2 separate regions of the Homo sapiens genome follow, and region 2 is linked to region 1. The links come from fine-mapping of genetic effects on gene expression. Tissue or cell type: whole blood. Region 1 holds a variant in brackets; the other region holds the start of a gene. All regions are shown on one strand. Distances are from middle to middle.

Evidence for each region. PIP is the estimated chance that this variant, and not a neighbour inherited with it, causes the effect.
Region 2: it holds the start of HM13, and the variant in region 1 is fine-mapped to the expression of HM13 in whole blood (TOPMed, PIP 0.93).

The regions. Positions count from the first base shown.
Region 1 is chr20:31,603,348-31,608,493 of GRCh38, reverse strand. ID1 (inhibitor of DNA binding 1) reads right to left here and starts at 3,205. Exons shown (of 2, transcript NM_002165.4): 1 at 2,681-3,205; 2 at 1,984-2,441. The coding sequence starts at 3,106. The coding sequence ends at 2,400. MIR3193 (microRNA 3193) reads right to left here and starts at 1,308; the gene lies at 1,254-1,308. It overlaps LOC105372588 (a long non-coding RNA gene), which reads left to right and starts at 3,299. Exons shown (of 2, transcript XR_936669.2): 1 at 3,299-3,391; 2 at 3,549-3,803. RefSeq lists a cis regulatory region at 1-92, a silencer at 1,154-1,448 and enhancers at 1,473-2,051, 2,098-2,767, 2,768-3,438, 3,828-4,007, 3,743-4,581. The variant G/C (reference allele first, on the strand shown) is at 3,190.
Region 2 is chr20:31,512,436-31,517,581 of GRCh38, reverse strand. HM13 (histocompatibility minor 13) reads right to left here and starts at 3,140. Exons shown (of 13, transcript NM_178581.3): 1 at 2,848-3,140. The coding sequence starts at 3,030. RefSeq lists a silencer at 2,474-2,543.

The DNA.
Region 1 (5,146 bases):
CCAGAGTGTGCCTGAATGGCGGGGGAGGTGGCCCAGGCCCCCGCCGCAGCCCCTTCCTCCCCTGGAAAAAGGCCCTGCATGTCGGAGTACGCGAGGGGGAACCCGCTCAGACCCCGTGGGTGGGCTTGCAGGCGGGGGCCCACACGTGAGAGTGCGTGCGTGCACACGTGTGCCTCCGAGGACACTCCAAGGACTCACAGGCGACAATAATAATTTATAACTATGAAACATTCTGTGCCAAGCACTGTGCTAAACGTTTTACACACTTACTTTATTTCATTTATTCTGTACTACATTCCGTGAGGTTAGTACTGTAATACAGCAGCCGGTGGGGAGGAGGTAGCAAAGAACATAATTCGCCTGCAAGTACTGGGTTCTTCGATAAAATCCATAAACTGTGGAGGGGGTGTACCTGGCTTAATGTTAGTGCTCAAATCATAATCTTTCATTTGATTTTTTGTTCATCCCCTCTCTGAGCTTGTTCCTTCTGCTGTAAAACTGGGATCACAGTCTTGCCTTTAGCCCCACAGGGATCCATGAAATCGTTTTTGTAAAGGGTTCAGTTGAGCAGAGCCAGGCTTCTGGTGCTAAGGGCTATTGATTTTATTCTATTGTTTATTGACAAAATATATTAATAGCCCTTACCTGTCTGGGACAAGTTCTTTGTCATTCCTGGGACTCAGTTTCTCCATATGTAATACAGGGGGGTTTACCTGGCAGCAATCCTTGAGGGTTGGTGCCCCCAGGACCTAACGATAGCCCAGGGAGTTGCCACGTGAACTTTTGAGGAAGGGTTTGCCCAAACACAGCTGTCCCCACCTTCACTCCAGACCCGCAGAGGCCCAGGAATGCCAACCAATCTATAGAACAGTTATACACACAGAAACCCACAGTGTGGTTCTGTGGCCCCCAGACACACAAACCCATCCATCATGCCAGACCCATGCAGAGATGCCTACAATGCATTTAGGCAGAACACACAAGCCCAAACAGCTGGAGGTTCCACACTTATCTGCAGAACACATGTGCTCTCATTTGCCCTTCTGCACACACCCCCAAGCATACTCCTACTTACACCCCCTCCCCCAAGCCTATATGTGAACAGTTGGCCCATCCCCACTGTGGGAGTAGTGGGGGAAGATCAGCTTACTCCTGTTACATACACAGGCGTAGACACTCATACATGCTCCCCTGAGTAGAAATCCACATACATGTCCAGGAAGATTCTTAGACCCTTGCCAATGACATATTTTTCCTGCTCAGGAGCTGGGTAATGAGACTCGTCCACTCCTCAGATCCTACGCAGGAGCCCCGGGGTTGGTGGGGGAGATTTGTTTGAACTGCCGACAGAGCCAGGCCAGAGTGAGGAGGCCGAGTCTGGACCCAGAGCAGGTGTCTCGGCAGCTGTGCCCAGCCTGGCCCTGCCAACTTGCTCACCCACTTGGATGAGCCAGGAGCCCCAGGGCTGCCTGCTGGAACCCAGAGGTAGGCTGTTGGGGGAGGCACCTCCAACTGGGGAATGGGGTGATAGAATCACTGCCTCTCACAAGCTATGGCCCTAAGCAAGTCCCTTTCCACTGGGTCTCACTTTATCCACATCTTGGCAAGGAAGTGGGTGGTCCAGCGGCCAGGTTCTCCAACTTAAATGGCTTGCTCAATACTCCCAATACAGAGGGGGCCCTGGCAGGTTCATCTGCATTTTAACAACCTCCCCAGGTGATCTAGATGGCCCAATGATCACTGTGAGAAACCCCAGAGGTCTGGAGTATTTAGTTTTATAACACTGGGGAGCAGGGAAATGGGCAGGGATGGTGGGGGAAGAATAGACTTTAAAGACACCGGAAACACTCATTCAGGCCGGTAAGAGCAACAATCCAGATGTAGCCCTCCAATTCTCCTCCCAGAACCAGCTGTGAAGAGGGTCAGGGGTCAACCCCCAGCCCAGGCCCCTCCCCTCAACCCAAGAAGTCACTACAACTTTACCACCATCTAAATTATTTGTTTAATAACAAAAAAACAGCCCCACAGAACTATTGTAAAACAATATTTTCAGTCGGTGATCATTGTAATATACAATACAAAGCAATTTCCTCAGAAATCTGAGAAGCACCAAACGTGACCATTTTTTAAAATGTCTGCTTTTCAAAAAATAGAAACACACGAGTGGAATCCCACCCCCTAAAGTCTCTGGTGACTAGTAGGTGTGCAGAGAGGAGCGCCCTCTCCTCGCCAGTGCCTCAGCCTCAGCCCCAGGCTGGATGCAGTTAAGGGCGCAGTGGCCGCCGATCGGTCTTGTTCTCCCTCAGATCCGGCGAGGCGCGTTGGGGGAGACCCACAGAGCACGTAATTCCTCTTGCCCCCTGGATGGCTGGGGTCCGCCGGTCCCTGGGGGAGGCGCTTCAGCGACACAAGATGCGATCGTCCGCAGGAACGCATGCCGCCTGTGAAAACGAGAAGAAATGAGACCGGCGGGTTGGAAGGGACGCCGCTCCGAGCGCAGCGAACGCCCCCTTCCCCAGGAAGCACGACGGGGGAGCGCTTTTTCCAGGCTCCTTAGGCACCCCCGCATAGCCAGGTACCCGCAAGGATGGGACGGAAGTGGTGCAAGCGCCCACGCCCTCTCTGGCCTCCGTTTCCCCGTCGGTATAAGGATGATCTAGTGGTCGGATCTGGATCTCACCTCGGCCGTCAGGGCGCTGATCTCGCCGTTGAGGGTGCTGAGCGGAGCCCGGACCGGCAGCCCTCGGCCCCCGGGGGTTCCAACTTCGGATTCCGAGTTCAGCTCCAACTGAAGGTCCCTGATGTAGTCGATGACGTGCTGGAGAATCTCCACCTTGCTCACCTTGCGGTTCTGGGGCAGGGTGGGCACCAGCTCCTTGAGGCGTGAGTAACAGCCGTTCATGTCGTAGAGCAGCACGTTTACCTGCTGCTCGTCCAGCAGGGCAGGCAGGCGCGCCCCGGCGCCCCCGGCGCAGCGCGAGATGGCCACGCTCTGCTCAGACAGACAGCGCACCACCTCGCCCGCACCGCTCGCTGTCTTGCCGGCCTTCAGCGCGCAGCTGGGGCCCGCGGCGGCGGTGGCGGTGCTGCCACTGGCGACTTTCATGATTCTTGGCGACTGGCTGAAACAGAATGGGCAAAGCGAAAAAAATGAGGTGGAAGCCCGAAGCAGATACGGAAAATGGAACA[G/C]TTAAGAACGTGGAATGAGAGTGCGGAGCCACAGCTTGTCTTTTATAAACACGCCACGGCCCCCGGAGGGGCGGGCTCAGAACGTTCAAAAGCAGCCAATGGGCGGCATGGGGGCGTGACCCGCGCTCCTAGGTCCAGCCTCCTGCTCGTCTAGTGCCTGCTCGCAGTGTGGAAAGACGACCCGGGTTTCAGAACAGCAAGGGTGGGTCGGTGGCAGGGCACCGGGCAGGGCAGCGGGTAGAGGCGAGGGCCGCACTGGGCTCCTCTGGAAGGAGGCAAGGAAGCTAAGCAGGCATTGCCTTATAATGAAAAGACCTCAGGAATCAGTTTTTCCCATATTCACTTTCTCACTTCTCCAGCTCCATTTCACAGATGAGAGAAATTGAGGCCCGAACGGAGAAGCGGCTGGCTCTGGATAGCCCAGAGAGCCTGGGTTTCCGGACCCTCTTGGAAGATGCTTCTCGGACCCTGATCTACAAATATCAGGACCGAAATTTAAAGCGGGCGCTCCTTTACATCTGCTCCCCTGGGCTTTCTCAATTCCTAAATAATGTTGCTGTTCGTGTTCCTGAGACCCGGAGGGCCTACCCAGATCCCTCCCGGGTGGGAGCAATTAATTCGGGAAAGTCTAGTAAGTTTGGGGCTGGGTGGCTGGGAAGTGAACTAGATAGAGCGCAGTGGAGTGAGGCTGCATTCGATTCCACCTTGAATTTGCAGCTCCTTGCAAAAATTTCCTGAACCTGCAACAGTTCGTGATTTTTTAATGTTTTTTCCCATTTTTGGCTGCTTTTTAAATTTTCTTCTCAAAGACCTCAGAGCAGGGTCTCCCTCCCACGGCGCGGCAGCTGCGGAGCTACAGTCTCCCCCCTCCCTTCCCGGGCCGGTCTGTGTCAGCGTCTGAACCAGCGGCTCAGACCGTTAGACGCCAGGCCTGTGACGTCACCCATTCATAAAACCCGGACGGACTGTCAGGCTGGCGCCGCGCGGGCGGTCGCCATGGAGACGACAAACTGGTCTAGCTAGTTCCCGTGCTCCCCCCAGCCCGTCACCTGCAGACCCCGGGCGGGAGGCCTGGGAATGCGTTTCTTGCGGGCGCGGTCGCTGAGCAAGGGTCACCTTACCTCCCCGCCCCACACCTGCGAGTCTCCCAACCCAGACCCACAGCTTGGGCCGCTTGGGGTTTCTTCACCGCTCCCCCCACCTCTCCGCCCCAGCTACCCCTTCCAGCGTGGGGAAAAAGGCCTGAGTTCTCTTTCCAGCTCTGCAGCTGAGTGAATTCAGGCGGGTCGCATGCCCTCTCTGAGCCCTAATATTTAATATCTGCTTGGTGTTTAAATAATAATCACAAACGTGACCATTATTAATTTCTTACTTTGTACAGCGGGCACTGTATGAAGAGTTTGTCTTGATCATCTTTTTTCATTTATTTCTTATTTTAAAAAATGAAGGGCTGCGCGGTGGCTCACGCCTGTAATCCCAACAATTTGGAAGGCCGAGGCGGGTGGATTGCCTGAGGTCAGGAGTTCGAGACCAGCCTGACCAATATGGTGAAACCCCATCTCTACTAAAAATACAAAAATTAGCCGGGCATGGTAGCGTTCGCCTGTAATCCCAGCTACTCGGGAGGCTGAGACAGGAGAATTGCTTGAACCTGGGAGGCGGAGGTTGCAGTGAGCCGAGATCGCACCACTGCACTCAAGCCTGGCGACAGAGTGAGACTCGTCTCAAAAAAAAAAAAAAAAAAAAGGATACAGGGGGCCGGGCGCAGTGGCTCACGCCTGTAATCCCAGCACTTTGGGAGGCCGTGGTGGGCAGATCACGAGGTCAGGAGTTCGAGACCAGCCTGACCAACATGGTGAAATCCCGTCTCTACTAAAAATGAAAAATTAGCCAGGTGTGGTGGCGCGCACCTGTAATACCCCAGCTACTCAGGAGGCTGAGGCAGGAGACTCGCTGG
Region 2 (5,146 bases), 91 kb after region 1:
AGGCCTATCAGAGCTCTATTTACTTGACTAGTCACATGTCTGTTTCTCCTTGGTGACTGGGCTCAGTGAGGGCAGGGCTTGGCCTTCTTTGTCCCGGAACTCCTGGTACCCAGCCCAGAGCCTAGCCCACAGCAGGCACCCAGTCCTGTTCGCTGAGGGCCCTTTAAACCAATGTTTAATGTGCAGCTACTGCCTGGGTCATATTCGCTTCTGTCTGGGATATAGGACTCTGACAGTGATGGGTGCTGCTCTGAGACTGCTCCTCCCAAGGCTACTTCTTCACAACATACTCCTGGAGGCTCTACCTTCTTTCTCTCCATGATTTCACAATTTTCCCTGCCTGTTATGGACACCTTGACCCTTGGGGATTCTGTCCTCACATTCCCTCTCTCCCAACTGGTTTTGGGGTCCAACACTGGTGGGAAATCAAAACTGGGTCCCCACACTAACTCTTCTCTCTCCTTTTCACATGACCAGGGAAACGACTCAGGGTAGAAGGGGAGTCATTTGCCCTGTCCTTTCCCTAGGTCAATGCTGCTTGTCTTTAAAGGTACCTGTGTTAGGAGAGAGCCCTGGATGAGGACTAGGCATACCTGATTCTGCCCCTAAATGGCAGAGTGATCTTCAGAAGTCATTTCTTTGACTCTCAGTTTCTTTTCCTGTACAATGAGGATAATGAAACTGGCTCTGCCTGCCACCTCAGTTGCTGTGAGCATCAAAGGGCGTCAAGGTTTTGCAAGCTTTACCGCATCTGGGTCATTGGTGGTGGCAGGCTCTTAATGGTCAGGTCCTGTTTGTAAATTCATACAGTCCTCCACACCCTGCTGCCCTGCAGGAGATGCTTGGGAGAGGTATTCAGAGGCTAAGGCTTTCTCCTATCCATACCCTCTGTTCCAGCCACACCAAACCTTCCACTATTTCCTGAACTGCCTCGTAGCCTCCTGCCTCCGTACCTCTCTCTGCTTACCTGGTTTCTTTTGCTTAGAATGCCTTCTCCTGGCTGAAATTCTACCTCTACGTCAAGGCTCAGGCCTACCTCTAGCACAAAGCCTCCCTGCATTGTCCCAGATGTGCTCAATCTTTCTCCCTAAACCTTGTAGCATTGCTTGTAGTATAATCACAATCTAGTTATTATTCTTTCACCTACGCTCCCGAATTCCTTGGTGACAGGGCTCTGACCTACTCATCTTTGCAGCAATCCTCCCTTACCCCTGACAGTGGTGGAAGTTCAGGAAATACTGTTGCCTGGAAGGTGTTTTCTGCAGAGATTAGTGATCCATGTACAGAAGGTGCCAGGGAGAATTACTCAGTTTGGAGAGCAGCTCAGATCAAGCTGCCTAGCCTTATGCCAGCTGTCCTTCGCCTCCTCTGTCCTGGGTTATCTCAGAACTGCTCTCTACACTAAGTGTCTACCTGACAGGCATAGTAGAGAGGCTTAATATCACCTGAACTCAGCTTAGAAAAAGCCAAATAAAAAGGAAAATGGAGTCATGTTTGAGTCTCTCAGCCTAAGCCCCGCCTAACTACTTTCCTTTGCATCTGATCGCATACAGAGCCAGTAGTGAGTTCTCTGCTCCTGGGGAAGGAAGATGGCAGGCCTCAGCTACTGCTCAAGTTGGGTAGTGTTTTGAGAACCTCAGCTTCAGCAGTTTCAAAAGTGGCAGCTGCTTTGTGGGCCTGCCCTCTTTGGGCAAGACTTCCACTTAGGTCCATCCTCAGGTCTGGGTGGGGGAGGAGCATCGGGAAGGTGCAGATTAAGAGGTTGTGGAGGAAGGGAGAGGGTGCCAGGAAGTGAAAAGTCATTGGTACAACGGGCTAGAAAGGGCTTAATATAGGGAAGAAGTGGGGCAGGGAAGGGGGAGGGAGAAGCAGAAGGTGAAATGTGCTGGAGTCCTCCTAGTTATCCAATAGGACAGATGTTGAGGAAGGCCAGGGATGGAGTCTGGCCCAGTCTCACAAGAGGGGCCAACAGTGGCCCAGCAGACAGGCCCAGTTTGGTGGGGGGATTGTCTTGGGGGTATGGGGAGAAGGGCTACTTTGAGATAGGGTCAAAGGCTGGGTGGGAAAAGGGTTACAGGTTAGGAACAAGGTCTAGGTTTTGACTAGGCCATGTCCAAGGTTGGATGGTAGTTAAGAGAGGAAACCAGGAAAATAAGACGTCCATGCCTAGTTGGAAAGTAGAGGCACCAAGATGCCAGCTTCTGAGGAGCCAGCTGACTGGGATGGTTCCAGAAAGTGATGTGAAAAACTGGGCTCTAAGAGATCATTGTTTTTGAGGCAGGGGCAAGGGCCAGGTGTGGGGGATCTAGGTGAGCACATAAGGTGCCATAGATTCCAGTGAGACAGGAGTCAGAGTCTAGGGATGGGTCTGGATGGTAGAAAGGGCCCTGCGGTGGGCTGAGGCAGGGTTCCTAACAGGGAATGACACGAAATTGTACCATTCAGTAAGTTGTGAGGACCAGTATCCATCAGGTATACATGATGGGGCTGATCTGCCTGGGCCCAACAGGCTCAGAACAATCAGTGCCCGAGTCGCAGTGGGGGACGGGCTGACAGCGTTCCCAGCCGCGGCATGATGCACAGGGAGGGAAGTGTCAGGGTCCGGGTCGGGAGCAGAAGCAAGTTCCTATTGGGGAAGGTATCATACCCTGGTCGGGGGTCGGTGCCCAGATCCCGGGGTAGGAAATGCCAGCCCCGGAATGTGGGCCCGAGACAGAGGGAACGGTGGTGATCAGGGCTGGGAAGAGTCAGTGTCCGGGGAGAGGTGTCTGTCCCGCCTAGGAAGGGTCCATGTCGGCCGTGTTCGGTATGGGGGTGGAAAGTGCCCGGTTTTCCCGCTGACCCTACCTTGCCGCGGGCGCAGCGTACGGAGCGCAGGGCGCCGAAGAAGATGGGCAGCAGCGCCATGAGCAGGAGGCTGCCGTAGGCCAGCGCGATGCCCTCGGGCGTGGAAGGCGGCCGCGTAGTGCTGTTGGTGGGGCCGCCTGCCTCGGCACTGCCGTTATGCGGATCGCTGAGGGCCGAGTCCATGGCGAGGGTGCGTTCGGGATCCGACTCCAGCTCCGGTTGCTGCAGCAGGGACGCAGGCGGAGACACCGGCTCTGCAGGGAAAGCCACGTTCCCCTAAGGCAACAGGAAGTGACGTGCTCCCTCCCAAGCCCGCGCCGCGCACGCGCGCACACACGCTTGCACGCACGCGCGCGCGCGTGCACGTCTCCCCGCCCGCTCGCCCTCTAGCGGTGGCCGAGGGCCGGGCGGCGGGTTGCTAAGCAACTTGTTAGCGGTCCGGACAGGGGCTCTGGGCCACTGCGGTGGGCATGCGACCCGAATGCCCATTTCCCAGTCCCAGCCGGTCTCCTCAATCCCCTGCTGTCCACTCTCCGCAAATCCTCATATTCCGAATAACTAAGAATGTGTTTATTCATACATGCATTTATTGGGTATCCAATTGTTTATTCACTCCTTAAATATTTATTGAATGTCCCTCAATATGCCAACAACTGACCTAGGCTCTGGGGACACTGAGGTGAACAATACAGGCAAAAGTTCCTCCTTGCCTTCGTGAAGTTTGCATTTTAGTGCAGTGTGTGTGGGGGGACGTTGGGAAGACAATAAAGAAACTGAACAAAATAAAAGTCTGTAAAATGGGCTGGGCGCAGTGGCTCACGCCTGTAATCCCAGCACTCTAGGAGGCCGAGGCGGGTGGATCACCTGACGTCACGAGTTCGAGACCAGCCTGACCAATATGGTGAAACCCCGTCTGCACTAAAAATACAAACAATTAGCCGGGCGTGGTGGCACGCACCTGTAATCCCAGCTACTCGGGAGGCTGAGGCAGGAGAATCGCCTGAACCCGGGAGGCGGAGGTTGCAGTGAGCCAAGACTGAGCCATTGCACTCCAGCCTGGGCAACAAGAGCGAAACTCCGTCTGAAAAAAAAAAAAAAAAAAAAAAAAAAAAAGGCCAGGCGCGGTGGCTCACGCCTGTAATCCCAGCACTTTGGGAGGCCGAGGTGGGCAGATTGCGAGGTCAGGAGATCGAGACCATCCTGGCTAACACGGTGAAACCCCGTCTGTACTAAAAATATAAAAAATTAGCCGGGCGTGGTGGCGGGCGCCTACAATCCCAGCTACTTGGGAGGCTGAGGCAGGAGACTGGCTTGAACCTGGGAGGCGGAGGTTGCAGTGAGCCCACTGCACTCCAGCCTGGGCGACAGAGTGAGACTCTGTCTCAAAAAAAAAAAAAAAAAAAACAAGAAAAATTTGTAATTTGTAAAACGTTAATGTATAGTTATGTGTTACATAGCATGTTAATGCAGATAAATAGAGAAAAATAAAGCAAAAGAAAGTAAGGTGTGTGTGGAGTTTGCAAATGTATTGAGAGCCTACTATGTGCCAGGCAATTATAATACCTTACGAGTTCATGCCCCTGTACAATTTATAAAGCTTTGTGGCTCTTTTCAGAATTTGAAGAATCTGTTTATTTATGTGATTCTTATTTTTGATATTGTTAAAAAAGTTAAAAATATATATTTTCTTAGACATGGGGTTTTGCCATGTTGGCCAGGCTGGTCTCAAACTCCTAGGTTCAAGTGATCCTCCTGCCTCAGCCTCCTAAAGTGTTGGGATTACAGGTATGAGCCACTGCTTGCAGCCTACTGTGGCTATATTAGATACTGGAACATCTAAGCATCACTGTGTGACTGTGCAAACAAAAAACTTCAAGGAGGGCCTATTATTATTATTATTATTATTATTATTTTGAGACAGGGTCTCACTCTGTCACCCAGGCTGGAGTGCAGTGGCATGATCACAGCTCACTGCAGCCTCTACCTTCTGGGCTTGGGTGATTCTCCCACCTCAGCCTCCCCAGTAGCTGGGACCACAGGTGTGTGCCACCACGCCCGGCTAACTTTTTGTGTTTTTAGTAGAGATGGGGTTTCGGCATGTTGCCCAGGCTGGTCTCAAACTCCTGGGCTCAAGCAATCTGCCCACTTCGGCCTCCCAAAGTTCTGCAATTATAGGCATGAGCTGCCACCTCCCGCAAGAGTGCCTATTTTATTTTATTTTATTTATTTTTTATTTTTTTTTTTGAGATGGAGTCTTGCTATGTCACCCAGGCTGGAGTGCAGTGGCACGATTTCGGCT